7 linked regions of the Homo sapiens genome follow. The protein of the gene in region 1 purifies or fractionates together with the protein of each later gene. This does not show direct contact. Each region holds a gene or a part of one and is shown in the gene's direction. Other genes may lie near its edges.

Region 1 (4,040 bases):
TTTTAAAAGTCAGTTTAGCAGTAGTGACTAGTACACACTGATTGAGGGTAGGGATTGAAGGGAAAGAAAACATTTAGGCAACTCCTGTAATTGAGCTTAATGATAGCGGTAGAAATGGAGAAGAAAGAGATATGAGAGGTTTCAAAGTAATGAAGGGCAGGGTTTAGATCCCTGATGGGAATGAGATAAGATGAATGGTAAGATTTTTATGCGCGGTGGCTGAAGCCTGTAATCCCAGCACTTTGGGATGCAAAGGTGGGCAAATCACCTGAGATCACAAGACCAGCCTGGCCAACATAGTGAAACCCCGTCTCTACTAAAAATACAAAAATTAGCCAGGCATGGTGGAGCGTGCCTGTAATCCCTGCTGCTCAGGAGGCTGAGGCACAAGAATTGCTTGAACCTGGGAGGCAGAGGTTGCAGTGAGCCTAGATCACACCACTGCACTCCAGCCTGGGGGACAGAGACTGTATCTCAAAAAAAAAAAAAAAAAAAAAGGTAAATGTCTTTAAGAATTCAAATAAGAATCGAAGGTCTGGCTGGGCACAGTGGATCACCCCTGTAATCCCAGCACTTTGGGAGGCTGAGGCGGGCTGATCAGCTGAGGTTGGAAGTTCAAGACCAGCCTGACCAACATGGAGAAACCCCGTTTCTACTAAAAATATAAAATTAGCTGGGCATGGTGGTACATGCCTGTAATCCCAGCTACTCGGGAGGCTGAAGCAGGAGAATCACTTGAACCCTGGAGGTGGAGGTTGCAGTGAGCCGAGATTGTGCCATTGCACTCCAGCCTGGGCAACAAGAGCAAAACTCCATGTCAAAATAAATAAATAAATAAGAATAAAAATCAAAGGTCCTGCCCCCAAGTGCTAATTTAGCCTGGGGTCTAGGGATTGCTGAGGAAGTGGGGATTCAGAATTGAGTGTTGGATCTCTGGAGAGGACAAGATACTGAAGTTAGATTTTAAGGTCAGGACTGGAGATGAAAATTGGTGAATTATAAATAGGATGTGACTATTGACCTTACTTCTTTATCATGTGGTAACTTTTCATACTCCCATTGTGGGATAATGCTGCGTTAGTTTATTTACAGTAAAGTGTCAGGTCAAACTAAGTCAGCTTACAGGACAGAAATTGTATGTAGTCAAAATTACCTGTAATCACTCTTTTTGACTAATCCTGTTATTTTATCTAGTGAGTTGACTTCATTTCCTATGACCCTCCTTCAGTTACTGTGCCACCACCACATTGTTTCTTGAATCTTTCAAGCAAGGTCCCATCTTTGCTTCTTCCAATTTGCTTTTTTGCCTGGAAGACTCTTCCTGCTGATATTTGCATATGACTCAGATGCTTTGTTTCATTAAATCTCAGTAAAATGTCACCTTTTTAAGAAGACCTTCCTTGATCACCCTGTGAAATAGCCACCCACCCCAGCCCACCCTACCCCAGCTTTACTGTTATTTTTCTTCATAGTATTTATCACTAGCTAACCTTTCATTATGTAGTTGTGTATCACTAGCTAACATTACATTATATAGTTGTGACTCCCTTGTTAGAACATATGATTCATGAGAGCAGGACCTTATCTGTTGTGTTCACCTATTTATCTCCATTGTTCAGGGCAACGACTGGCTTGTCGTAGGCCCTCAATAAGTGCATTGAAGTAAATATTATTGCATGATGAGTGGGCATTATTAGTACTTTATACATTTTTTAAAATTTATTTATTATTTATTTGTTTTTAGACAATCTCACTGTGTGGCCCAGGCTAGAGTGCAGTGGCAGAATCTTGGCTCACTGCAACCTCTACCTCCTGGGTTCAAGTGATTCTCATACCTCAGCCTCCCGAGGAGCTGCGACTACAGGCTCATGCCACCATGCCCGGCTAATTTTTGTATTTTCTGTAGAGACGGCATTTCGCTATGTTGACCAGGCTAGTGTCAAACTCCTGACGTCAAGTGATCCACGTGCCTTGGCCTCTGAAAGTGCTAGGATTATAGGCATGAGCCACCACGCCCAGCCCTATACATATTTATTTATTATTATTTTTTTGAGATGGAGTCTTGCTCTGTTACCTAGGCTGGAGTGCAGTGGCACAATCTCGGCTCACTGCAACCTCTGCCTCCTGGGTTCAAGCAATTCTCCTGCCTCAGCCTCCCAAGTAGCTGAGACTACAGGTGCACACCACCACAGCCGGCTAATTTTTGTATTTTTAGTAGAGACAGGGTTTCACCATGTTAGCCAGGCTAGTCTCAAACTCCTGACTTCAGGCTATCTGCCTGCCTTGGCCTCCCAAAGTGCTGGGATTACAGACATGAGCCACCACACCTTTATTTTAAAATAGGACCTTAAAATAGTCCCTTTAGCCATCAGGTGTTCTTTGGCCATGGTTGCTTGAAGCTTCTTTTGGTACAGGACATCCTCCCTAATGCCCCTCTAAATCCCAGCCAGCCTTTGGATTTGAGGGCATACACTTAACCTCTGCCCCCTGATTTATTTTACTCTTCTCGGTGCCCAAAGTTGTCAATGATTGTTATTTACACATTATTTCTCCTTTTTTTCTTTGACTTTTGGGAGTACAGTGAGTTTGGAGGGATTGAAATAATGGCAGGTGAAAGGGAAGAGAGATCCTACTATATTTTATGAATAAAGAATAAAAATGAGTGAAGCCTGATCCTCCAAGAGCACCAGGAGAAAATGGTATGTAAATATATAGTTAAAATAGTATGGTGTGATAAAACCATATAATAGGGCAAAATACTAAGCAAAGTAGAATCACTATCTGTAATTCACAAATGATTGAATTATCCATTCTTCAGGGGAGGATCACAAAAAGTCACAGAGATATGACCTTTGGAGTGGACTCTAAACAATGAAATCATTGTTTACTGGGTGAACAAATGATGAGAGAGTTGAAAATATATGTTGCCTCCAAGAGTCTAATATGTGTGTGGAGGGTTGGGGGCAGATTATAGAACAGGAGGTTTTAGACAATATAGATGAAACTGAAAAGATAGAAGTGTAAACCATTGGGTTGTGAGGGGCCTTTATATCCTGTGTCAGGGACGGTAGATCTTATTTGGTACACATCATAGAGCATTTCATTATGGAAATGCTATTAGTGAAGCTGTTGTATTCATTGAAGCCTCAATGTAGGGAAATGACTGTAGAGATGACAGAGGAGGCAACTGAGGGGAGTTGTAAATGATACGCATTTGATGATATTAGGTGATCAGTTGAATGTGGAGGATTTACAGATAACTCAAATGTTCCTTGCTTGGACAGCTGGAGGATTGACACCATGGACTGAATTAAGAGGTGAGTTTAGGAGAAAGATACTAAAAATTATGTTGTGTTTGCATTACCCATCCTATTTTAGTACCAAGGTAGTAGATGGTTGAATATTAGAGCTCAGAGAGTGGTCTAAACCCTAGAACTTGGGACTCATCAATGTCCTAAGCAGGGTGTACAATAAAAAACATCATTTGACAATGGGCAGGAAAACCAATGAAAAATTTGAAGGATGACTAGAATAGTCATAGAAAATGATAGTGTCCTGGATACCTAAATACCTAGTTTGGTATTTAGTTGTCTAGTAACAAATCCTGTAGAGAAGTCAAGTTGAGTGGGGACTGATCAGTGACCAGTTTCCTTGGAATTAAAAGTAACTACTAACCTTTAACAGTTTCAGTAGAATGGTGATGAGATAGAGATTATTCATTCAGGAAAGGAAAGAGAGAAATAGGTAACCTGATTGGGAAGTAATGTCAAGAAAATATGTTTCAGGATTATTGAAAATTGAGCGTTCTTTTGTTTTTTTTTTTTTTTTTGAGACAGTTTCACTCTGTCACCCAGGCTGGAGTGCAGTGGCGCAATCTCAACTCACTGCAATCTCTGCTCTCGGGTTCATGCCATTCTTCTGCTTCAGCCTCCTGAGTAGCTGGGACTACAGGTGCCCGCCACCACGCCGGGCTAATTTTTTTTTTTTGTATTTTTAGTAGAGACCCGGTTTCACCGTATTAGCCAGGATGGTCTCAATCT
Region 2 (4,821 bases), on another chromosome or scaffold:
AATAATTCTTTTTATTGTTTTTTTAATGGAGTGTTGATTTCCTTACATAAATTTAATTGTAAACATGTACATAGGACCGTGATTTTGAATTAAAAAAATACTTTGGGCCTTCGGCCTTCTTAGTAGTTTTTTTTGTTTTGTTTTGTTTTCGTTTTTGTTTTGATACGGCGTCTTGCTCTGTCGCCCAGGCTGGAGTGCAGCTGCACGATCTTGGCTCACTGCAACCTCCGTCTCCCTGGTTCAAGCGATTCTTCTGCCTCAGCCTCCCGAGTAGCTGGGACTACAGGTGTGCGTCACCATGCCCAGCTAAATTTTTTTGTATTTTTAGTAGAGACGGGGTTTCACCATGTTGGCCAGGCTGGTCTCAAACCCCTGACCTCAGGTGATCCACCCGCCTCGGCCCCCCGAAAGTGATGGGATTATAGGCGTCAGCCACCGCGTCTGGCCACCTTCTTAGTAGTTATAAAGTAGCTCAGATTTTTCATTTATCTCCTATTTCATGCATATCCTATTGTTTGCAAAATGAAACCAGATTGCCGAGGCATTTTCAAATATCTTCTAAAGTTTTATATTCTTAAGGAAAGAACAAATTCTTTCATGTATTAACTAATATATCAAAGAATTTGGGATACAGAAGATGCCTCAGGGTGGTCCCTGGTGGGCTTATCCCATTTCTTTCCTGAAGGAACGCAGGACAGGACAAATTCAGTCTCATTGGAGACAGACCTCTCCAGTTAGTCTTTTTCTTTTGAAACGGAGTTTCGCTCTTGTTGCCCAAGCTGGGGTGCAATGGCGGATCTCAGCTCAATGCAACCTCCGCTTCCCGGGTTCAAGCGATTTTCCTGCCTCAGCCTCCTGAGTAGCTGGGATTACAGGCGCGCGCGACCACGCCCGGCTAATTTTTTGTATTTTTAGTAGAACAATACATTCACAACTGCAGGAGATACGAGACACACACACACACACACACACACACACACACACACACACACACAGAGACAGAGACAGAGTGGGAGAAAGGGAGAGGGCAGTGAGCACGAGCGACCTTTCTAGGTTTACGTCCTGCTCCAGGTTCTGGTGGGCTTTGAGAGTATTTTCATTGCATGCCTGATGTGTGCCCACACCTTGCTTGGGTGTATGCAGTGAGTAACTGGTAGGTGTTTAGTACACATATTAGGCATCTGCTGGTGCCAAAACTTCTTTCTAAATCCTCCGCGGCTGAGCCTGGTGGCTCACGCCTGTAGTCCCAGCACTTTGGGAGGCTCAGGCGGGAGGATCTTTTAAGCCCAGGAGTTCGACACCGGCTTGGGTAACATAGGGAGATCTGGTCTCTATAAAAACTTAAAAAATGAGTTGGGCGTGGTGGCGCGCGCCTGCAGTCCCAGCTACTCTGGAGGCTCGGGTGGGAGGGTCGCTTGAGCCCGGGAGGTCGCGGCTGCAGTGAGCTCTAATCACGCCACTGCACTCCAGCCTGGGCGACAGAGTAAGACCCTGTCTCAAGAAAATAAACAAATAAAAGTCTTCCTCAGCGACAAAAGCAAACGCAAGCCCGAGCTCGCCTCAGCCCCACGCAGCGCGGAGGGCCTTCCCGCCCCGAGCGCACCCGGGGCTCCGGCCCCCGCGCATGCGCACTCCGCGCAGCCCGTTGGGGCTGGAACCAGTCCCTCCCATCGGCGGACTACATTTCCCACAGGCCTCCGCTCGCAGTTCTTTCCGGCTTCGCTGCTGGTGTCGGCTCCGAGAGGTGAGTTGGTCGCTTGCACCGAGGCAATGGGCGCGGGGGTGGCGCGGGGGCGGCGCAGACCTCAGTGTGAGCCAGGAGGCAGTAGCTGTGGAGTTTGTGGCGCTGACTGGGCGCCGGGTGCCCTGTTGCGTCCTCTGCCTTCTCGCTTCAGAGCCGCCCAGGTCCAGCGGCCCGGAATGGCTCCGAGTTAGATACAGGAACCCCGGAGTGAATGAAGGCCCCCAAACAAAAAGACGCAGTCTGAAGAACTGCAGATTGCACAGCTTTACCCGAGCTCCCTCCCATGGAAACTGCGGGGAACTCGGAGACAGATCCCAGCCCCGTCTTCGTGTACCTGGCCTTTCGCTCTGATACGGGAAAGGGTCAGCTTTATTCCAGGCTCCCTGTTATTTCCATCGGGTTTTGCGCGCAGTAGACGGAGGGAGCAAGTGCGCTAGCGGGGGTGTGTCCTGCTCAGCCAAGGCCGGCTCCAGGAAAGGCCCGCGGTCTCAAGATTCCCGTCTCCTTTCCCAATCCTGCTGTTCTTTAGGAAGGCAGCGGGGAGAGGAGGAAATGATTGCTGTTGCATATAGACAAGTCAACATCCAGATGAGTTTGTGTTTCCGTTTTGTTCCATGAAGTGTAATTTTTATTTTTTCTGGGCGTGGGGGCATTTGCTTTCCTCTTCTGTGGAATGAAAATCAGCTCGGACTGAACAATGAAGCAGCTCTGTCATTAATCAGGCTAGGAAGGAAGAGACAGATAAAGCCAGTTGCAAAATTAATAGAAAACATGATTTCTCCCCAGGTGGTGCAGTAGTTGTAAAATGGCATAATGACTCCCTCTTTGAGAGATTACAGTTTTCTTACCAGTGATGTTCTAGACTTGCTTTGCTGTTTTCATTTTATTACTGGGGATACCCTCTTGATTACACTCATGATTGCATTCAATATCTCATTAATCCCTGCCTCTCCTAATCTCACCTCGGAAACAGCAGCCATTCCAGATTGCAGCTGTCATTAGATCCTCCTTAGAATCTTTCAGCTGGAACTCAACCGTTTACGAAAGAGCTTTTCTCGTCTCTCTCGTCCATTCTATTCCAACCCTTCCTGTGGAATTTTCTCCCTTTCTGCCAGTCAATAGATATGATTTTGTCAGACTATGCGGGCTTGTTCCAGTTAATCTTCAGCTAGTTAGACTTTAACCCCTGAAATGTCCTGTCCACTGACCTGGTGCTTTGGCCTTCCTTCCCAGTGAATGATGGGGTGATGAAGGTAGATTCCAATTCCTACCCCTTTCCAGTAGGTTTGTTTTGTTTTGTTTTTTTTTGTATTTTTTGAGATGGAGTCTGGGTCTGTTACCCAGGCTGGAGTGCAGTGGCACGATGTGCTCACTGAAACCTCCGCCTCCCGGGTTCAAGCAGGATTCTCCTGCTTCAGCCTGCCAAGTAGCTAGAACTACAGGGATGAGCCACCGCACCCGGCCTCCAGTAGGTATTGACATGAGCATTTGGCAGTAATTTAGTTTCTCTTATGAGCTGCCTCTTTCTAATCATTTGGATGGTCTGGAAGTAAACCTCCTGAAGAGAAGCTAACTGCAGAGCTTTATTTTGTTACTTAAGTTTTTTTTTTTTTTTTAGAGACAGGGTCTCACTCTGTCCCTCAGGCTGGAGTGCAGTGAAGTGATCTCGCTCCCTGCAGCCTGGACCTCCCTGGCTCAAGCGATCCTTCCACCTCAGCCTCTTGAGTAGCTGAGACCACAGGCACGTGGTCCCACGCGCAATTTTTAAATTTTTTTGTAGAAATGAGGTCTCCTTATGTTGCACAGGCTGATCTTGAACTCCTGGAGTCAAGGAATTCTTCCACCTCAGCCTCCCAAAGTGTTGAGATTACAGGCGTGAGCCACCACGTAGAACTTTCATTCGATGGTGATTAGTTGAGGAGTTTACAGTTTAGATGGAATTACCCACTAGGTCTCTTTGATCCCCACCGCCCTGAGTTCAAAAGCAGGGAAAGGAGGTGGTTTGATTGGCGACAGGATCTTTTCTGCTTTTGAGGCTTTTAAGGAGTGACAATACGATGGGGTTTTTAGTGGAGAGGTCTGTGTTAACAAGGGAAGGGGTTATTAGAAGGGAAGGGAAGACAGTAGAAATTTGGAAAGTGGCTTGAAGTTTTTGACAGCATGAGTGTTTCAGGCCACGTATTTATCAGGTCTCATGAGATGCAGTTTAGTACAGTGACAGTCGTATGGGTTATGGAGCTAAAGTAGGGGGGTTCTAGTCCTCAACCTGCCACTTAAAGCTGCCTGAGCTTGGGGCAATTTATTTAATCTCTTTGTGCCACAGTTTCATCATCTGCAAAATGAGGATAATGATAGACCCTGCTATATAGGATGGCTCTGAGTAGAGGAATTAATATATGCAAAACCCTTAGCTAATGCTTGGCACATAATAAGTGCACAGTAGATTTGTTACCGTTAGGTTGTAATTTAATATTTTTCCTCATCACCCAGATCCAAAAATTGGTATCCTACCACATTTGTTTTATCTTTGTACCCTCCTTTTGTAAATTGTTGATAATCAAGAAGGATTGCCTATCAAGAGCAGGGCTGCGAAGAATTTTTTTTTTTTCTTTTTTTTTGAGACAGAGTTTTGCTCTGTCACCCAGGCTGGAGTGCGGTGGCACGATCTTGGCTCACTGCAGCCACCCGCCCCAGGTTCAAACCATTCTCCTACCTCAGCCTCCCAAGTAGCTGGGGTTACAGGCATGCATCACCATGCCTGGCTAATTTTTATATTTTTAGTAGAGATGGGGTTTCACTATGTTGGCCAGGCTGGTCTTGAACTCCTGATCTAAGTGATCCGCCTGTGTTGGCCTCCCAAAGTGCTGGGATTACAGGCCTGAGTAGAATTTTAAAAATAATTGTGGGAAGAAGCATATGTAGTATTCTTCATCTTTATTAATATAGCTGACTTTTATGAAATGCTTATTTACTACTCTAAGTGCCTTATATGTAGTATCTTATTTATTTCTCATAACAATCCTTTCAGGTAGAAACTGTAGTTCTCACCATTTCATATGGGGAACTGGAAAGTAACC
Region 3 (4,040 bases), on another chromosome or scaffold:
GCCTAATATGGAAAATCTGAGGCCAAGTAAAAAATAGTTTTATTTTTAGTATTTCATTATTCCATTGTTTGAATTAGTGTGAATCAATGCTATATTAGATTGTTTTATATAATGTAGGTCTATAATTGGAACAGATGTTCTTTATCTTTAGAGCCACTCTTTCTATAAATATCTGGCATACCAAGCCACAGTTAAATCGAAGAGATTGGGGGTTGACCTTTTTTCTTTTGTGCCCTCACATTGACTGCTTCCTTAGGTTAATGATCTAGCAAATACTGTTGTGTTTAAAATCTACTAATTTTGCCAGACACGGTGGCTCACGCCTGTAATCCCAGCACTTTGGGAGGCCGAGGTGGTTGGATCACCTGAGGTCAGGAGTTCAAGACCAGCCTGGCCAACATGGTGAAACACCATCTCTACTTAAAATACAAAAAAAAAATTAGCTGGGCGTGGTGGCGGGTGCCTGTAATCCCAGCTACTCAGGAGGCTGAGGCAGGAGAATCACTTGAACCCAGGAGGCAGAGGTTGCAGTGAGCTGAGATCGTGCCATCGCACTCTAGCCTGGGTGACAAGCGTGAAACTCCGTCTCAAAAAAAAAAATCTAATTTTAAATTGGAATATTGTGTTTATCTGTGTACTATTAGGAAGGTCTTTTATCACTTGCCTATAACTTCTACATTCTTAGGAACTTTTAGATTTTCTGGCTTTTTTTTTGTTTTTGTGGGTTTTTTTTGTTGTTTTTTGAGACGGAGTCTCGCTCTGTCTCCCAGTCTGGAGTGCAGTGGCACGATCTCGGCTCACTGCAAGCTCTGCCTTCCGGGTTCACGTCATTCTCCTTCCTCAGCCTCCTGAGTAGCTGGGACTACAGGCGCCCGCCACCACGCCCAGCTAATTTTTTGTATTTTTTAGTAGAGACGGGGTTTCACTGTGTTAGCCGGGATGGTCTCAATCTCCTGACCTCGTAATCCACCCACCTCGGCCTCCCAAAGTGCTGGGATTACAGGCATGAGCCACTGCGCCCGGCCAGAACTTTTAGATTTTCTCATTTCCCAGTTGCATGTTAGGTAGGATTATTTTAATTTAGCTTTACAAAGTTACATATTTAAATTACGCTAAAATGCAGCTGTCTGCACTCACTGGATTTAAATAGTGTAGCTGATTTTTGTAGCATTACTTTAGTGAGTTAGTACCTACGGGCCAAAGCCTTAAGTGTTAGAAAGGCTAGAGTCTAGCCACAAGTCGAATTGTCAAAGAAAAGCCAAGTATTATACTTCTTTATCTGTCTTTCTGTATCATTTCCTTATTAGGAAAAACTGAGCTGATCCTTCTTAACTAGCTATGTCAAGAGTTTCTCACTTTCTTATGTGAGATAGTTCATCTTCTGTTTTAAGATCAAGAAAGAATCAAGTTAACTAGCGTTCTCTACCATTTCTTAAATGAATGTTATTCCAGTTTCCAGAGGGCAGCGTCTTTTGTTCAGATATTACTGGGCCTTGTGGGAAGGTAATGTGACTTTCCTCTTAGGGAAGGCAGGAGCTAGGGAAAGGAAGGGTAGTAATTTCTTTTCTTTTCTTTTTTTTTTTTTTTTTTTTTAAGATGGAGTCTCACTCTGTAGCCCAGGCTGGAGTGCAGTGGCGTGATGTCGGTTCACTGCAAGCTCCGCCTCCCGGTTTCACACCATTCTCCTGCCTCAGCCTCCCGAGTAGCTGGGACTACAGGCTCCCGCCACCACGCCCAGCTAATTTTTTTGTATTTTTTAGTAGAGACGGGGTTTCACTGTGTTAGCCGGGATGGTCTCAATCTCCTGACCTCGTGATCCACCCACCTCGGCCTCCCAAAGTGCTGGGATTACAGGCGTGAGCCACTGCACCTGGCCAATTTCTTCTTTCTTTTGAAGAATGGGGTCAGTCTGCCTTTATTTGCACAGGGTTGTGGGTAGATTTTCCAGTAAAAAGTAAATAACTGGTAATGAAAATTAGGACTTTTTCATGGTGAGAGATTTTCTTTGCAATATACGCTTATTTTGCTATCTGTTATTTGTGTTTGTACAGATAAACATGATGCTGGCAAACCTGTACAAGAAGGCTGGTCAGGAGCGCCCTTCAGTCACCAGCTATAAGGAGGTGCTGAGGCAGTGCCCATTAGCCCTTGATGCCATTCTAGGTAGAGATATTTCCTGCCTGTTTTCATGGCATGTTTACTGTCAAAGATAGTAGTTCTCAATCTTGCCTGTACATTAGAATAACTTTATTTTTTTTAAAAGTTCCCCTGAAGAGAGTGATTTAGTAGGATTCCTGTTGTCACATATTCAATCAAGAAATACTTAATTATGGTTTTTGGCCGGGCATGGTGGCTTACACCTGTAATTCTAGCACCTTGGGAGGCTGAGGTGGGTGGATTGCCTGAGCTCAGCAGGTCGAGACCAGCCTGGGCAACATGGCACAACCCCGTCTCTACTAAAAATACAAAAATTAGCCAGGCATGGTGGCGCGTGCCTGTAGTCCCAGCTTCTCGGAAGGCTGGGGCATGAGTATCGCTTGAACCCAGGAGGCAGAGGTTGCAGTGAGCTGAGATTGTGCCACTGCATTCCAGCCCAGGGGGACAGAACAAGACACTGTCTCAAAAAGAAAAGAAATACTAAATTATGGTTTTTCTCTCATGCATCGCTCAGAATAGGGAAGCAGTTGCCTTTTAGCCAAGGGAAGATGTAGCCCGTTGCTCCTTGCATGTGGAAGAGAGATATCGTGCCTTACTTTCTTTCTTCTGCTTTCTGTTGGTTTAGGCTTGTTGTCCCTTTCTGTAAAAGGGGCAGAGGTGGCATCCATGACAATGAATGTGATCCAAACCGTGCCTAACTTGGACTGGCTCTCTGTGTGGATCAAAGCGTATGCTTTTGTGCACACTGGTGACAACTCAAGAGCAATCAGTACCATCTGGTGAGAGCCACAAAGTTAATTCAGTGTTCTTGAGGCCCTTTGCTTGTCTGGAAGTCTGATGTATCTGAAGTAGCAAAAAGAAAAATGAGATGCTTTGCTGTTGGTGCTGCAGCCAGTCTCTGGGATGTGTTAGTCTTTTATACTGAATGGTCCCAAATGTAATCATGTAATCATCTCTGTTGGAGACCTGTAAAAATAGAAATCTGACTGAGTTTAGCTCTGTGCCTGCACAGGTAGTAACCCTTGCAAAGCAAAGCAGGCTACCTTGGTGTGTCATTTTTTTTTTTTTTTTTGAGACAAGGTCGGTCTCTCTCTCTCTCTCTCTCTCTCTCTCTCTCTCTCTCTCTCTCTCTCTGTCTCTCTCTCTCTCTGTCTCTCTCTCTCTGTCTCTCTCTCTCTCTGCCTCTCTCTCTCTCTCTGTCTCTCTGTCTCTCTCTCTCTCTCTCTCTCTGTCTCTCTCTCTCTCTCTCTCTCTCTCTCTCTGTCTCTCTGTCTCTCTGTCTCTCTCTCTCTCTCTCTCTCTCCCAGGCTAGAGTGCAGTGGCGCAGTCACAGCTCAGTGTAGCCTTGACCTGTCAATCTCCCGGGCTCAAACCATCCTCCTGCTCAGCCTCCTGAGTATCTGGGACTACAGGCGCATGCCACCACACCCAGCTAATTTTTGTATGTTTTTGTAGAGATGGGATTTCACCATGTTGCCCAAGCTGGTCTTGAATTCCTGGGCTCAAGTGATTCTCCCACGTGGGCCTCCCAAAGTGCTGGGATTATAGACGTGAGCCACCATGCCTGGCCTTGGTGTATCATTCTTCAGCCTGGAAGAAAATCATTTTGCACTCACCAGAAGCTTGGTTTATTGCAGTGTCTAACCTAGCTTGCCTGCTTAGGACTAGGGATTTTCTTTATATTCAGATAAAGTTCAAGGACAAGAAGAGACTTGGGCTTGTGTTATGCAAAGTCGTTTACTTGAGTAATAAATAGGTGTCACTTGTGAATGACATTACCTTTAACACCATGTAGCGTATGTTGTGTTCTGAAGAACTGCAACCACAGAGTTATTTGTTGGTACTGAGAGACTTCTGCTTTATTCTTTGTTTTTGCTATCCTG
Region 4 (4,040 bases), on another chromosome or scaffold:
GGCCACACAGCCACCATCCCTATTGTTTCAGGTTCCAATCACATTCCTGTTCTGGGGCCCACATTCTCAAGGGAATCTTCTGGTAGTGAGAGTTTGCTTCAGTTTGCATCTGGAAACAGCTCTTAGGGGTAAGGGGGATTTGCCCCTGAGTGGCATGAGGTCAGGGCTGCTGGGGCCAGGTCTTCCTGGACTGGCACCTCAGCACAGTGGCGAGGACATCTCTGATCTAGCAGGGTAAAATCCGGAGTCAGCTGGCTGGAATTTGAACCTCCAGGTTGCAGGAAGCCCAAGTACTTCCCATTTCTGGGCCTGCCGCTTGTCCTGTGTGACTCCCCGGCCCACAGGCCTCTGGCAGCTCTGATTAGGCTCACGCTGCTGTCCCAAAAGACCTGGTCTGTCTGCTCTCTCCACAGCAACTGACTATTCAAAGAACTTGATAGAAAGGTACCCCGGGCCACTCCCAGCCGCCTATGGGTTCACTAGAGAATGTCCTTTTGGAAATCTATGGGCTGGACAGGGAAAAGGCCAGTGATCCTGATCAACCGCCCCCTGCTTAGAAGACCATGTCATCTCCCATCCCAGTTCTTTTTTTTTTTTTTTTTCTTTTTTGAGACAGAGTCTTTCTCTGTCTCCCAGACTGGAGTGCAGTGGCGCGATCTCGGCTCACTGCAACCTCTGTCTCCCAGGTTCAAGCGATTCTCCTGCCTCAGCCTCCGGAGTAGCTGGGACTACAGGTGGGTGCCTCCACGCCCAGCTAATTTTTGTATTTTTAGTAGAGATGGGGTTTCACCACGTTGGCCAGGATGGGCTCCATCTCTTGACCTCGTGATCCACCTGGCTTGGCCTCCCAAAATGCTGGGATTACGGGTGTGAGCCACTGCGCCCAGCCAACAGTGGACTTTTTAACCAAATATCCTTTCATGCTTGCTGATTTTTGTTCTGTGTGCATGTACAGTCAGCCCCGCCACATCTGCAGGTTCATCCAACTGCAGGTAGAAAATATTCCAGAAGCTGGAGCTGGACACAGTGGCTCACACCTCTAATCCCAGCACTTTGGGAGGTCGAGGTGGGTGGATTGCTTGAGCCCCAGAGTTTGAGACCAGCTTGGGCAACGTAGGGAGGCCCGTCTCTACAAAATAAAAAACTAGCTGTATGTGGTGGCGCATGCCTGTGGTCCCAGCTGCTTGGGAGGCTGAGGTGGGAGGATGGCTTGAGTCCAGGAGGTTAAGGCTGCAGTAAGACACGATCATACCACTGCACTGCAGCCTGGGTGACAGAACCCATCTTAAAAAAAAAAAAAATCCAAAAGAAAAACCAGTAAAAAATTACACCACGAAAAAACTATACACTATAACCACTATTTATATACCACTTACATTGTATTATTATAAGTAATCTGGAGGTGATTTAAAGTATACAGGAGGATGTACACAGGTTACATGCAAATATTATGCTATTTTTTATCAGGGACTTGAACATCTGTGGATTTGGGTGTCACTGGGAGTCTTGGAACCAACCCCCTGAGGATACTAAGGCATGACTATATTACCTGGTAAAAAATGGGGAAAAGCCACATTATGTATCTTCCCTCTTAAAATGAACACTAAAAAGATGAAGTGTCCTGTAGTGTGTAACTCTTTCCAGCCTATCTCTTTGTGATGTGGTTCTTCCTTTTTTTTTTTTTTTTTTTGAGACGGAGTCTCGCTCTGTCGCCCAGGCTGGAGTGCAGTGGCGCGATCTCGGCTCACTGCAGGCTCTGCCTCCTGGGTTCATGCCATTCTCCTGCCTCAGCCTCCCGAGTAGCTGGGACTATGGGCGCCCGCCACCACGCCTGGCTAATTTTTTTTTGTATTTTTTTTAGTAGAGATGGGGTTTCACCGTGTTAGCCAGGATGGTCTCCATCTCCTGACCTCGTGATCTGCCCGCCTCCAAAGTGCTGGGGTTACAGGTGTGAGCTACCACGCCCGGCCTTCTCTTTTTTCTTTGTTTTTTCTTTCTTTCTTTCTTTCTTTCTTTCTTTTTTTTTTTTTTGAGACGGAGTTTCGCTCTTGTTGCCTAGCCTGGCGTTGAATGGCGCGATCTCGGCTCCTCACAACCTCCGCCTCCCGGATTCAAGCGATTCTCCTGCCTCAGCCTCCTGAGTAGCTGGGATTACAGGCACGCGCCACCATGCCCAGCTAATTTTGTATTTTTAGTAGAGATGGGGTTTCTGCATGTTGGTCAGGCTGGTCTCCAACTCCCATCCTCAGGTGATCCGCCCGCCTTGGCCTCCCAAAGTCCTGGGATTACAGGCGTGTGCCACCGTGCCTGGCCTCTTTTTTCTTTTTCTTTTTTCCTAGGCTTAGCTCAGCTGTCTGAGGGACATAGAACAGACATCCCTTGGGGAGAAAGTTGATTTTGGGGAACGTGTGGATGTGTTGACTGTCCCATAATTTGAGGTTTATGGTGGGAGGCATGAGAACATTTTGAAAATGAGAGAATGTCAGAATGAGAAGTTCTCCAGAGTCCAGGAGGCAAAGGGAATGCTCACAGCAGCCTTTAGGAGGTGGGTGCTGTGGTGGTTGGGTAGTTGTGGCAGCGCCTACGTAGCCTATAGTCAGGTAGGCGAGAGGAATGTCTGTGGCATGCTAGGCATCTGGGTGCTGGGTGTCCACCCAGGAGGAGCAGAGCTTGTGACCCTCATCTGGGCAGGTGACCAGGAAATGGAGGTAGCAGTGTGCTCCCCATCCCCTTTCTGCCCAGCTGTGACATTGTTGGTGTGCTGTCCCTGCGCCAGCTGGGGATGCAGGGAGTGGCCTACACATCTCTCTTGTAGAAGCTTTTCTGTATTGTGGGGTGGAGTCTGTTTCTACGCACGGAGCAGACTGACTTTCCAGAGTGCTAATGGAGGCAGAAGGAGATGTGGTTTCCTGGTGCTGTTGGACAGAGGGACTCAAATTTGGAAACAGGCCCATGGTTCATCAGAAGAAGCTTAACAAAAGAATGAAGACTCTATTATTTCCTCCCTGGCTGGCTGAGGGAAGGCACAGAAAGACTCGATTTGAAGCCAGGTTCTGCCACTCAGTGATGTGACACTGGAGGAGTTACCTGTCCTGGGTTTCTCTATTTGTTGAAATTGGAACTAAAATAGCTCAGGGTGAGGCACAGGCACACATGCAGTGGCCAGCCCAGTGCCTGGTGTGAAGTTGGTGGGCTGCAGATGTTACAGGGGATGCTCACCTCACTCCCCACTGCGCAAGCCAGGGGCAGGCGCGAGGTTTCCAGGCCTTGCAAATGGGAGATTCCCCAGCTTCTTAATGAGTGAAGCTGATTTGCTGGCCCGGAGGGAAGGGGCCCACCATGCTGTGTTCTGGGCTACTTCTGGGCTAACCTAGCATCTGTCACTAGTCTATAAATGGACACGGAAGTGTTTTCCAAAGCACAAGCACTCGGTGTCTTGAATGCCCAGGCAGCCGCACCAGCACCCCTTCCTCCCACCTCAGCTGCATGAGCCCTCTGGGGTTTCTGCCCACTGCAGGTGGCTGAGATGTGTGCTCTTCCTTCATCACTTTATAGGGGCTCAAAATTCAGAGGCCAAATTGCCTGCTGTAGGGTCACATGGTGGTGGTTCAGAAAATAGCCTCCTTCCAACCCCACTGGAAACAAGGAAAAATAAAAAATCAGAAAATAGGTTTTCTGCTCACCAAGCCACATTCCCGGCAGGCTCCATGTGGCAGCCTGGACTCCAGCCCTGCACTGCTCCCTATGTGATGGGCCTGCCAGAGACACATGGTTGGGCGAATATAATGGCAGATAAATAGACTGCCCTTCTCACCACCCATGGCCCTGTCTGCTGTGTTCTCTCATCGACGCCTGTTTTGTTTTGTTCTAGTATTTGCCCATCCTTTTAGTGCTTTCCACTTACCAGAATCTTTGACTCTTTGCAATTTTTCTTTCACCATGACCCTTTTCCTCCCCAAATAAACCAACCGCTGTCTCCTCCCTCTCTGCCTTTTCTCTGCCAAATGTAATTTGTTTTGTAAAGTATGTCCGCCTCTGAC
Region 5 (4,040 bases), on another chromosome or scaffold:
TAATCCTAGCGTTTCGGGAGGCTGAGATGGGAAGATCACTTGAGGTCAGGAGTTCAAGACCAGCCTGGCCAACATGGTGAAACCCCATCTCTACCAAAAATTAGAAAAAGTAGCCAGGCGTGGTGGCACACACCTGTAGTCCCAGCTACTCAGGAGGCTAAAGCGGGAGAATCATTTGAACCTGGGAGGCGGAGGGGTTGCAGTGAGCCAAGATTGTGCCACTGTACTCCAGCCTGGGTGACAGAGTGAGACTCTGGTCTCAAAAATAAATAAATAAATAAGTAATAAAAAATAAATAACACAAATACTCTTATACCTTTTAATTTTATAATAGTATAGCATTTTATTTTTTGGTATATTCTGCTTGCATATCTTGGTAACAGTATATACCATTTTAATTGCAGTTGCATAGTAATTACACAGATTGCAGGACAATATCTAATTTAATTACTAGTATCTTCAGCAAATGTAGTGAGATTAAGATCCAGTTCTTTTGTTTTTTTGTTTTTTTTTGTAATTGAGACAGAGTCTTGCTCTGTCACGCAGGCTGGAGTGCAGTGGCGTGATACCAGCTCACTGCAACCTCCGCCTCCCAGGCTCAAGTGATCCTCCCACCTCAGCCTCCCAAGTAGCTGGGACTACAGGCATGCACCACCACACACAGCTCATTTTTGTATTTTTAGTAGAGATGGTGTTTAGCCATGTCAAGTGACCTGCCCGCTTTGGCCACCTAAAATGCTGGGATTACAGGCATGAGCCATCATGCCCAGCCTAAGATCTAGTTCTTGACTTTATGCCACGTAATTTATGAGGCTGAAGTAAGAACTTCAGTTTAATATTTTGTGCACCTTTTCAGACTAAGTTTTGTAAAGAGGTGAAATAGTTTTTTTAATTCAAAAGAGTAAAGGAAAACAATTCATTCAATTTATTTTGAAAGGTTTTAAAGAATTATAAGAAGATAATTTTTTCAGAAATTGATTTTAAGAACTGGTATTCCACATACAGTTCTTGAATGTACTACATATATTAGACTAGTGTATAATTAAGGTTTAATAATTTTACCCTGTTTCAAAGAATTTAAATTATTGTATCTGATAGTTAACCTGGATGAATCGTTACATTGTTAAGGGATGCACAGATCAAAATAATAGTTGTAGACCTTAATTACTAAGAAGCCTGGGAGGTTTTTAAGTTATGAATCTCATAGTTTGTTCTGTAAGCTATATGTTATGAATGTAACAGTAATAGTCTTCTAATTAACATATTTGTCTATGTATTGGTTTATTCATTCATTTGGCCAACATTGACTACTGTAGTAGATGCTAGAATACAGATGTGAATAGAACAAATAAGGTTCTTGGTCTTTTAATGAAGTAGACAGGCATTTTACAATTAAGCCCCACAGTGAAATAACAATAAACCAATGCAAAATGCAACAAACACTAATGAGAGAATAGGAGAGGAGACCTACTTTAGACTGAATGGTTTCTGATTTGTAATGCATTAGGAGTTGGCCAGGCAGAAAGAAGAGGATCAGACTCCAGGTCATGGGAGCAACATATGTTCGGGCCAGAAAGTGCCAAGCTGTTAGAAGCCATTGTAAGCTAGAGCCTGGAAGGTGAAGGAGGTGGTAGGCAGATCATGGAAGTCCTTTAGGCCATGGTAAAAAGCTGAGGGTTTTTTGGTTTGTTTTTGTTTTTCTAAGTGGAATAGTTTTAAGTAGCAAGCAGAGTGGTATCTGATTTAGGTGAAGAATGAATGGACAGGAAGAGGGAGGGTTAGGCAAGAGTGGAAACAAACTCTAATGCCTAGTTTCCTGTGTACACTGATTTCCTTATGTGACAGGACATACTGAAGATTGCACAGTATCATAACAGAGCTCATTAGAATTTAGTTGACTTATTAATTTTCACCACGGATCAGTCGACTGCTTGATAGGAGCCAAACTAGCTAGATACAAGGTATAAAAGAAGGTAGCTAGTGATTTAATTTTATCCTTTCCTCTTCTAATGAATTCTCCCTGATACATGCAAGCATCCTTACAGAGTGCATAATCATGATGTGGAGCAGTGCCTAGTACTTAATATATATCTAGTTTTGGATTTTTTGTTAATATTTCTGTTCTTGGTACTTCTGCTCATCCAAAGCCCTAATTATGTCTTTTTTAGTCCTTTTTCCTCAGTTTTGGCCAAATCCCATTACTCTTTTGGTCTGCTTCCCCTTTGAAGCAGCTGACATTTTGTGTAATATAAAATCTTACCTAATCTTGAGCATAGAGGTGGGATAGGAAACTGAGATTCCCTTTAGAAATAAAAGGTTTCTCATTCCAGCTTTGAAAATTTCACCTAAGTGGATTAGCTATAGAGCAAGCATAAATATTGGTTCAGCTTAAGAGATTAAAAAGACACTTGGGGAAAAAAGTGGTAGTATATGAAAAAGCAGGATTTAAATCTGTCAGTACTATGATATCAGTTATATTAAGAAAACTTTATACTTAGAAATTACGTGCCCTATTAGAGAAGTCATTGCACTATTCCACAGACATTTTTTTCGATCTTCCTTTTCATCTATTTGTGCCAGAATACCATTTATTAAAAATAAAATTTAATTTCTACAGCTTCCTAATCTCTTGTTTTACGGACCACCTGGAACTGGAAAAACATCCACTATTTTGGCAGCAGCTAGAGAACTCTTTGGGTACGTTGAAATCAGTCTGTTTTTCTTTTTTTAAAGATTTGACACCAAAATTCTCTGATATTGCTTTTTTTCCTCTAAAAATTTGCGTTTCGTTTTCTGTAGGATAGTTTTCTATTTCTGATTTTTAAAAATCCCATGAGCCATTTTGTTCCTCCCTCACTCCCCTGAAGAAATCAGCTTGCCTGCGTCTTTTGTGACCTTCATTGTGAATCTTGTTCAAGTGTGGGGAGCCTATGATTTTTTCCATCACTTTCTTTAAATTTTCCATTATAACTTTGGAGTCCAGAGGGCCCAACTTAATGTCCAGTTGTGCTGATAGTTTTATCACCCTCTTAATGATTGTGTTCACATCTGTGTGGCTACATGATAGAATCTGCTGTTTCTGATGGCACTATTTGCACCATCCATTCTTGAGTCCTGCTCTGGACTTCCTAGGCTCTGACTCTGGAGTGGCCAGTCCAGCTCCTTGCCTCAGGTCTCCTGAGCACAAGTGATGGTTGATGTAGTGTGATTCCAGGTACACCAGAAAATCTTCCTGTGAGTCACCTTCTTATGTTCCTCTTCCTAGATTGACCATCTTGGCTTAACCAGCCATTCTAGAGGAGCCCTTTACCTAGAGTTAAAAGATGTGTAGTGGGCTGGGTCTGATATACATGAAACATGCACCAACATAACAAAGGCTGTTTTGAGTTTATCCAGAATTAATATCAGACATACAACTGATAGAAATATCTGAAATCCTACATATGAAAATAGGCTGGGTGTGGTGGCTCACATCTGTAATCCCAGCACTTTGGGAGGCCGAGGCAGGTGGATCACCTGGGGTGAGGAGTTCGAAACCAGCCTGGCCAACATGGTGAAACCCCATCTCTACTAAAAATACAAAAATTTGCCAGGCATGGTGGCATGCACCTGTAGTCCCAGCTACTCGGCAGGCTGAGGCAGGAGAATCACTTGAACCTGGGAGGCAGAGGTTGCAGTGAGCCGAGATCACGCCACTGCACTCCAGCCTGGGTGACAGAGCGAGACTCCGTCTCAAAAAAAAAAAGACGCCACTGAAATCACCAAATGTGTAAGGATTATTAGTTATGTCAAAATGTAAAAGACAAAGGGAGAAGCTGCTATGTGCCTAATATTTTATTTGACAGCAATTTTTTATTCTCAGTAAAATTATAGAAGAACTTTTTTGATTATTCCACAACTCAATCAGATAGAACCAATCTGAATCAGCCTTAACAGTTGTTTATTATTACTTAGAGTAGGTCAGTCCAGATTATACAACTTTTTCTATATCCTTTATGAAATAATGTTTGTCTTTAAAGAACTTACTTTAACAGTGAATT
Region 6 (4,040 bases), on another chromosome or scaffold:
TTATTTTTTATTTTTTAATGAGATGGAGTCTTGCTCTGTTGCCAGGCTGGAGTGCAGTGGTGCAACCTCGGCTCACTGCATCCTCCACCTTCTGGGTTCAAGCAATTCTCCTGCCTCAGCCTCCTGAGTAGCTGGAACCACAGGTACAAACCACCACACCCAGCTAATTTTTTTTTTTTTTTAGTAGAGACAGGGTTTCAATATCTTGGCCAGGATGGTCTCGATCTCTTGACCTCATGATCTGCCCACCTCGGCCTCCCAAAGTGTTGGGATTACAGGTGTGAGCCACCGCACCCAGCCATGGTTGATGATTTAATCATGCCCACGTCGTAGAAGCTCCATAAAAACCCCCATGGGGTTTGGAGATCACATGTGGAAGTGGGGGGTGGGGGAAGGGGGCACTGCAATTCCATGGGATCAGAGGCTCCTGTGCTTGGCACCCTTTGGACCTTGACTTCTGTACCTCTTTACCTGGCTGTCATTTGTATCCTATATAATAAACTGTAATTGTGTGACATTTTCCTGAGTTCTGTGAGTCATTCTAGCAAATTATCGAACCTGAGCAGGGAGGTTGTGGCAACCTCCAGTTGTGGTCAAGTTGGACAGAAGTGTGATAACGTGGGGACCCCAGAGTGGCACATGATGTGAGGGCAGTCTTGTGGGACCGAGCCCTGAAACCTGCAGAGTCTGATGATAACCCTCAGCGGTTAGTGTTAGCATAGCATCGAACTCTAGGATACCCAGTTGGCATCAGAGAAAGTGTTGCTGGAAAAGACACTGTGTATTTGGTGTCAGAAAGAACCACAGATTCATAGTTTTTTTTTTTTTTTTTTTTGAGACAGTCTTACTTTGTTGCCCAGGCTGGAGTGCAGTGGCGTGATCTTCGCTCACTGCAACCTCTGCATCCTGGGTTCAAGCGATTCTCATGCTTCATCTAGGTGCCACCATGCCCACCTAATTTTTGTATTTTTAGTAGAGACCATGTTTAGCCATGTTAGCCAGGCTGGTCTCAAACTCCTGACCTCGGGTGATCCGCCCACCTTTGCCTCCCAAAGTGCTGGGTTTACAGGCGTGAGACATCATGCCCGGCCTCATGGATAGATTTTCAATGTGAAAGACTCAAGTTAAATAGTACACATAGTGTGAAAACAAAGTTCCCCCTCTGTATACTTTTTTTCCTAATTCCCTAGTATGTCACTAACAAATGCTTGTCTTCCTGTTCTAGGGATTTACCTGTGAGGACATCTATGTCTGCATGCGTGTGTATGTGTGTGTATACATGCGTTGTATACATATACATGTATCTATGCATGTCAATGCTTACATGTATGATGGCTTATTTTTTATGGCCACTGCATAGTTTATTTGTTGTTTTGCTAAATATCATGGTATAGTTTACATGAAGGGGGTCATGCTAGATTATTCTGCACGTACTATATGACTGTAGCATATAGTTTAGGGTTGCAAGTAGGTGCTGAAAAACACTGCAGACATTCTCATGTTAGCAAGAGGATTTAATGGCTGCATATTACAGAAACTTATGATTTGTTGGATTAATGGATGGCTGCATGGTTATTATAAAATATAGAATATTTTACTATGACTTTGCTTCTTTCACAGTATATTTAAAAAACTAGGAATACAGTTTATTTGTGAACATGAATTTGTACTGCAAGGGTCCACTTATATCCAAACTTGAATCAAAAATATAGTATTCTCAGGATGTGAAACTCGCTTATACAGAGTAACATAAGCAGATTCCACTAGGCCAACTGTAGGTCATGAGTATGCACAATTTCGGTATATGTGGGGCATCCTGAAACCATTCCATTGAGTATACCAAGGGACAACTGTGCAGGTGCAGCTTATGTGGTGAAAATGGGCCGAACAACTTCATATTTCTTCCATGTCAATAAAAGAGAAACATATTAAGCAGGACTGTGTTATTACAGGAATCACTGACCCTGGAGGATGTGGCTGTGGACTTCACCTGGGAGGAGTGGCAGTTCCTGAGCCCTGCTCAGAAGGACCTGTACCGGGATGTGATGTTGGAGAACTACAGCAACCTTGTGTCAGTGGGTGAGGACAGCTGCCCTGTGTCACTCAGAGGGTACCCAGTCAGTGGCCTTTGCTTTCTCAGCTTCTGGAAGCTTTGGTATGTCTGCTGTGCTCCCAAATGGCAGATCCTCAGGCCCGTCTCTGGTCCCACAGGAAGAGGCATAATCTTCCTTCGTCTTAGAAAAAAAGCCTTTAATTTGCTAACATGCAAATTATGCAGTCCCTAACATGTACCTTTCTCCTATCATCAGAGCCACGTGGTGCAATTCAGTGAGCCTAAGTCTTCTCCCATTTCCCACAAACAGGGTATCAAGCCGGCAAACCTGATGCCCTCACCAAGTTGGAACAAGGAGAACCACTATGGACACTAGAAGATGAAATCCACAGTCCAGCCCACCCAGGTAAGTGAGAGAGAACCAGCAAGAGGGGAAGGCAGCGGAAGTCACATTCTGGTCATTTAGAGAAGGCATGACAGTTGTGAAAGTGTCTAGGGAGACAGAAACAGCTGCCACATCTTCTTCTCCCCTAGGATACAAGAGCTCTTTTTCTTATAGGAATTCAGAGAAGCATACATACCCCTTTATCTCTTCTTGGAACTGATCCCTATTCATTTCTTCTTAGATGTTGAGTTGCTTCCCCTAAGTTCTTCTTGCTTGGATTTTCACATCTTCCCATTCTTCTTCATCACTTGTCAGAGGATCATTTTGTGTTTCTGAGGCAAAAACGACAAACTGTTTTTTTCTCTGTCACATAGTCACTCAACACAGCATTTATGCCACTGGATATATAGGGGTTGTTTTCTCACAGCCCAGGCAATTCTCCAGCAGACATCAGCTGGGTATCGTCTGTTTCAAATCAGCTCTGACCCTATCTACCTGATACGGCATCAGATCCCACCGGTTAAGGGCTCAGTCCAAGACTGTGTCCCACTTCAGATGCCAGTGGCAAGTCCCAGGTTGTCACCTCAGCTTCTGACCAACCAGCTGTAAAGTAGGGGTTCCCAAGACCCTCTCCTCAAGTTTGATTAATTTGCTAGAACAGCATTTATATGTATATGCGTGTGTGTATATATGTGTATGTGTGTGTGTATGTGTGTATATACATTTATATATATACTTTATATATTTATATGTATATATACATTTATATAAGAGAGAGAGGGAGAAAGAGTGCCATAAGCATTGTCTAGAGTTACTGATTCATCAAGTGAGATAAGAACTGAGGCATAGGAGGCCGGGCATGGTGGCTCACACCTGTAATCCCAGCACTTTGGGAGGCTGAGGCGGGCGGATCACAAAGTCAGGAGTTTGAGACCAGCTTTGCCAACATGGTGAAACCCCATCTCTACTAAAAATACAAAAATTAGCCGGGCGTGGTGACATGTGCCTGTAGTCCCAGCTACTCAGGAGGCTGAGGCAGGAGAATTACTTGAACCCAGGAGGCAGAGGTTGCAGTGAGCTGAGATCGCGCCATTTCACTCCAGCCTGGGTGACAGAGTGAGACTCTGTTTCAAAAAACAAAAAGAAACGAAAAACAAAAAAACAAAAAAACTGAGGCATCGGTATGTGATTATGGTTTGTTTTTCACATTCTGACACTATGTATTTTTCACCTTGAATTTTCTTTTCATGAAATGGTTTTTAATACACTACAATATAATAATATCTTCCATGTCTAAATTCCCATTCTACTTTGCATCCCAATCACACACAAGCCACTCCCATAGATACCACATCAGTGTGATTTGGTGGTGCTTGAGGTTCCTTTGCTACTCTGGAGTCAAGGGCCTGGTTTTCATTCTTCTTCATGTAAGATTGAAATACATCTTGGTCATTCATGCATTTCTTCATCGAAGGACAGATTAGCCAGGCTGAAGAGAGGTCATACTTTTCCATCTATTAAGCATTTCTTAAAGGCTAGATCTTTATTAAAGGAGTTTTCATGACACTGTCCATACCAAGGCCTCTTGCTCTGTGAGTCTGG
Region 7 (4,040 bases), on another chromosome or scaffold:
TAATGTTTTTCTGTTATTTTCTGCTGCCTCTCCAATAATTTAAGAGCCAGGCTTGGAGTATGACTGCTCATTTGGAATGCCAGCTCCATCTCTTACTTACTATGTAACCCTTGGCAAGTTACTTAACCTCTCTGTACCTCATTTGTAAATAGGAATAATAGCTCATAAGGTTATTGTAAGGATGAAGTGAAAGAACATATCTAAAGCACTTAATATGGTGCCTGGCACATAGTAAATGCTTAATATATATATTATATATATATATATATATTTTTTTTTTTTTTGAGGCGGAGTCTTGCTCTGTCACCCAGGCTGACTGCAACTCCGCCTCCCGGGTTCAAGCAGCTCTCTGCTTCAGCCTCCTGAGTAACTGGGATTACAGGTGCCCACCACCACACCCGGCTAATTTTTGTATTTTTAGTAGAGATGGGGTTTCACCGTCTTGGCCGGGCTGGTCTTGAACTCCTGACTTCATGATACACCCGCCTCGGCCTCCCAAAGTGCTGGGATTACAGGCGCGAGCCACTGCACCCGGCCGACTTACTTATATTTTTAAGTATCGTGTAACTTATTAAAAATAAGTTAGATATTTTGATGGAATTGGAAAGGAGGGGTAAGCTGAAAAAAGTGTGTATTTTTAATTAGAAGAACACTAATGAAGCATGTGTCCATAGAAAATAGATGACGTGCCCTTTCCAAATGTATTGGAAAGCAGGAGAAATGGCCTTTTGTTAGTTTTGTTTGTTTGCTTGTTGTTTGGGGTGTTTTTTGGTTTGTTTGTTTGTTTGTTTGTTTGGATGAAGTCTTGCTCTGTTGCCTAGGCTGGAGTGCAGTGGCGCCAATCTCAGCTCACTGCAGCTTCTGCCTCCTGGGTTAAAGCAATTCTCCTGCCTCAGCCTTCCGGGTAGCTGGGATTACAGGCACGTGCCACCACGCCCAGCTAATTTTTGTATTTGTAGTAGAGACAGGTTTTCACCATGTTGGCCAGGCTGTTCTCAAACTCCTGACCTCAGGTGATCTGCCCGCCTCGGCCTCCCAAAGTGCTAGGATTACAGGCATGAGCCACTGCACCTGGCCTTGCTTGTTGTTTTTTAAATACGTTTTACTGTGGTAAAATATCTAACATAAAATTTGCAGTTTTAACCATTTTTAAGTGTACAAACCAGTGGCATTAATTATATTCACAGTGTTGTACAACCATCACCACTGTCTATTTTCACAGCTTTTCATCACTCCAAGCAGAAACTCTGTACCGTTACACAGTAACTCCCCATTCCCTTCCGCCAACCCTGGTAATCTCAAATCTACTTTCTGTTTCTATGAATTTGACTATTCTAGGTATTTCATATAAGAGGAATCATAATGCCTATGATGTTTTCAAGGTTCATCATGTTGTGGCATGTATCAGCACTTCATGCCGAAGTCATGGTCCGTTATATGTAGACCACATGTTGTTTATCCATTCACCTGTGGGTGGACACTCGGGTTGTGTCACTTTACAGCAAATGTGAAGTGGTATCTCGTTGTGGTTTTTATTTTCATTTCTCTAATGACTAATGATGTTGAGCACCTTTTCATGCAGTCTTTTGTTCGTTTTTGAGTTTTTTCTAGCATGATAGGCCTCACAGGTATTTGCCACTGGCCCTTAATGAGCAGATTATTTGGTCAAGAAAAATCACTCTCCTGTCTATAGCATCACAGTGTGTAGGGTTTAGTCACAGAGTAGGCTCCTCCCAGGTGTTTCTTATTGTCTGTGTGCATGAACACTCCCCCAGATTTCCAAGCCAGGGAGGAAAAGCCGAATTGCTCTTTTGTGTGGTGTCACCACCTCATCCTCAGCCCCATTTCATCCTGTCACTCTCCTGGTTCTACTTCTGCTGACAGTTTAAGTTCCTGGGTTGAACTTCATGCTCATTTTCTTGTGATAACCAGCTCCAGCAAAAGTATAGCTGCAGGATAAAATTGCAATACTAGTAGTGTTGGTGGTAGTAATGAATACTAGCTAACATTGATTATTTACCATGTGCCGGACACTGTATATGTGTTTTATATGAACTGACTTGCTTAATCTTCATGACCGACAGCTGTTCTGCAGATGAGACAACTGAGGTGTGAAATCACTTGGTCAAGGTTACACAGCTTAAATAAGCAGCAGCACCAGGATTCTGTTCAGGCAGCCAGGCCCAGGCCCTTCCCCAGCAAGCAGTAAGCCCCTGCCACGTGCTGGTGCTGGCTATGCCCAGCCACAAGCCATCTACCACATGTGAGAGGCTAAGAACAATCTATCTTGGCCGGGCTGCAGTCCCAGCACTTTGGGAGGCCGATGTGGGTGGATCACTTGAGGCCAGGAGTTCGAGACCAGCCTGGCCAACATAGTGAAACCCCATCTCTACTAAAAGTATAAAAATTAGGCAGGGCACGGTGGCTCATGCCTGTAATCCCAGCATTTTGGGAGGCCAAGGCGAGCAGATCACGAGGTCAGGAGATGGAGACCATCCTGGCTAACACGGTGAAACCCCGTCTCTACTAAAAATACAAAAAAATTAGACGGGTGTGGTGGCAGGTGCCTGTAGTCCCAGCTACTCGGGAGGCCGAGGCAGGAGAATGGCGTGAACCTGGGAGGCGGAGCTTGCAGTGAGCCGAGATCACGCCACTAGACTCTAGCCTGGGCGACGGAGCGAGACTCGGTCTCAAAAAAAAAAAAAAAAAAAAGTATAAAAATTAGGTAGGCATGGTGGTTCACACCTGTATCCCAGCTACTTGGAGGCTGAGGCATGAGAATCCCTTGAACCCTCGAGGCAGAGGCTGCAGTGAGCCAAGATCACGACACTGCACTCCAGCCTGGGTGGCAGAGTAAGACTGTCTCAAAAAAAAAAGAACAATCTGTCTTGTAAGATAGAAGTTACAAAAGTGAATGGAAAGGGACTGGTAGCTAATGCTGTTGTTGTAAATACCCTCTAAAATATTCCATTTGGGGCTGAGCACAGTGGCTCATGCCTGTAATCGTACCACTCTGCAAGGCTGAGGTGGAAAGACTGCCCAGAAGTTTGAGACCAGCCTAGACAACATAGTGAGACCTTGTCTCTACAAGAATAAAATAAAACTAGCCAAGCATGGTGGCTCATGCCTGTAGTCCCAGCTACCTGGGTGGCTAAGGTGGGAGGATTGTATAAGCCTGGGAGATTGAGGCCACGGTGAGCCAAGATTATGCCACTGCACTCCAACCTGGGCAACAGAGCAAGACTCTCTTTAAATAAAGAAATATATAAAGTAATAAAATGTTCCATTTGGTTCTGAAATATTTTATTAGGATAGGTACAGTGGCTCACGCCTATAATCCTAGCATTTTGGGAGGCCAAGATGGGCAGATCACTTGAGCCCAGGAGTTCAAGACCACCTTGGGCAATATGTGAGACCGTGTCTCTACAAAAAATACAAATATTAGCCGGGCATGGTGGCGTGTGCCTGTAGTCCCAGCTACGTGGGAGGCTGAGGCAGGAGGATTGCTTGATCCCTGGAGGTTGAGGCTGCAGTGAGCCATGATCACATCACTGGACTCCAGCCTGCGCAACAGAGTGAGACCCTGTCTCCAAAAATATATCAATATATGAGGTAGGCCAGGCACAGTGGCTCAAGCCTGTAATCCCAGCACTTTGGGAGGCCAAGGTGGGTGTCAAGAGTTCGAGACCAGCCTGACCAACATGGTAAAACCCCGTCTCTACTAAAAATACAAAAAATTAGCCAGGCATAGTGGCGTGTACCTATAGTGCCAGCTACTCGGGAGGCTCAGGCAGGAGAATCGCTTGAACTCAGGAGGTAGAGGCTGCAGTGAGCTGAGATCACACCACTGCTACCCTCCAGCCTGGGCGACAGAGCAAGACTCCATCTCACAAAAAGAGAAAAAAGAGAACCATGGGTGTTTTCTAAGACAGTAGGGTAGCAATAGTTTTGTACAAGAGTCATAGGCATTTAAAACTAGAAGAGACTACAGAAGTCAGCCCTTTACAACTGTGAACATAGAAGCAGTGAAACATGGAAAA

Evidence for each region.
Region 2: the proteins of SMARCAD1 (region 1) and ZFP14 purify together in Homo sapiens (co-immunoprecipitation; one large-scale study listed by IntAct). This does not show direct contact.
Region 3: the proteins of SMARCAD1 (region 1) and ANAPC7 purify together in Homo sapiens (affinity purification with mass spectrometry, with the first as the bait; one study listed by BioGRID). This does not show direct contact.
Region 4: the proteins of SMARCAD1 (region 1) and BEND3 purify together in Homo sapiens (affinity purification with mass spectrometry, with the first as the bait; one study listed by BioGRID). This does not show direct contact.
Region 5: the proteins of SMARCAD1 (region 1) and RFC4 purify together in Homo sapiens (affinity purification with mass spectrometry, with the first as the bait; one study listed by BioGRID). This does not show direct contact.
Region 6: the proteins of SMARCAD1 (region 1) and ZNF649 purify together in Homo sapiens (affinity purification with mass spectrometry, with the first as the bait; one study listed by BioGRID). This does not show direct contact.
Region 7: the proteins of SMARCAD1 (region 1) and CPSF3 purify together in Homo sapiens (affinity purification with mass spectrometry, with the first as the bait; one study listed by BioGRID). This does not show direct contact.

The regions. Positions count from the first base shown.
Region 1 is NC_000004.12:94,210,454-94,214,493, forward strand, and holds part of SMARCAD1 (SWI/SNF-related matrix-associated actin-dependent regulator of chromatin subfamily A containing DEAD/H box 1), read left to right. Parts: intron 1-2,581; exon of another isoform or gene 2,582-2,699; intron 2,700-3,284; exon of another isoform or gene 3,285-3,317; intron 3,318-4,040. UniProt on the Homo sapiens protein: DNA helicase that possesses intrinsic ATP-dependent nucleosome-remodeling activity and is both required for DNA repair and heterochromatin organization.
Region 2 is NC_000019.10:36,376,086-36,380,906, reverse strand, and holds the start of ZFP14 (zinc finger protein 14 homolog), read left to right. Parts: upstream 1-1,705; 5' UTR 1,706-1,744; intron 1,745-4,821. UniProt on the Homo sapiens protein: May be involved in transcriptional regulation.
Region 3 is NC_000012.12:110,386,635-110,390,674, reverse strand, and holds part of ANAPC7 (anaphase-promoting complex subunit 7), read left to right. Parts: intron 1-2,051; coding exon 2,052-2,163; intron 2,164-2,782; coding exon 2,783-2,936; intron 2,937-4,040. UniProt on the Homo sapiens protein: Component of the anaphase promoting complex/cyclosome (APC/C), a cell cycle-regulated E3 ubiquitin ligase that controls progression through mitosis and the G1 phase of the cell cycle.
Region 4 is NC_000006.12:107,101,940-107,105,979, reverse strand, and holds part of BEND3 (BEN domain-containing protein 3), read left to right. Parts: intron 1-4,040. UniProt on the Homo sapiens protein: Transcriptional repressor which associates with the NoRC (nucleolar remodeling complex) complex and plays a key role in repressing rDNA transcription.
Region 5 is NC_000003.12:186,796,192-186,800,231, reverse strand, and holds part of RFC4 (replication factor C subunit 4), read left to right. Parts: intron 1-2,617; coding exon 2,618-2,697; intron 2,698-4,040. UniProt on the Homo sapiens protein: Subunit of the replication factor C (RFC) complex which acts during elongation of primed DNA templates by DNA polymerases delta and epsilon, and is necessary for ATP-dependent loading of proliferating cell nuclear antigen (PCNA) onto primed DNA.
Region 6 is NC_000019.10:51,894,891-51,898,930, reverse strand, and holds part of ZNF649 (zinc finger protein 649), read left to right. Parts: intron 1-1,952; coding exon 1,953-2,079; intron 2,080-2,363; coding exon 2,364-2,459; intron 2,460-2,634; exon of another isoform or gene 2,635-2,770; intron 2,771-4,040. UniProt on the Homo sapiens protein: Transcriptional repressor. Regulator of transcriptional factor complexes and may suppress SRE and AP-1 transcription activities mediated by growth factor signaling pathways.
Region 7 is NC_000002.12:9,443,889-9,447,928, forward strand, and holds part of CPSF3 (cleavage and polyadenylation specificity factor subunit 3), read left to right. Parts: intron 1-4,040. UniProt on the Homo sapiens protein: Component of the cleavage and polyadenylation specificity factor (CPSF) complex that plays a key role in pre-mRNA 3'-end formation, recognizing the AAUAAA signal sequence and interacting with poly(A) polymerase and other factors to bring about cleavage and poly(A) addition.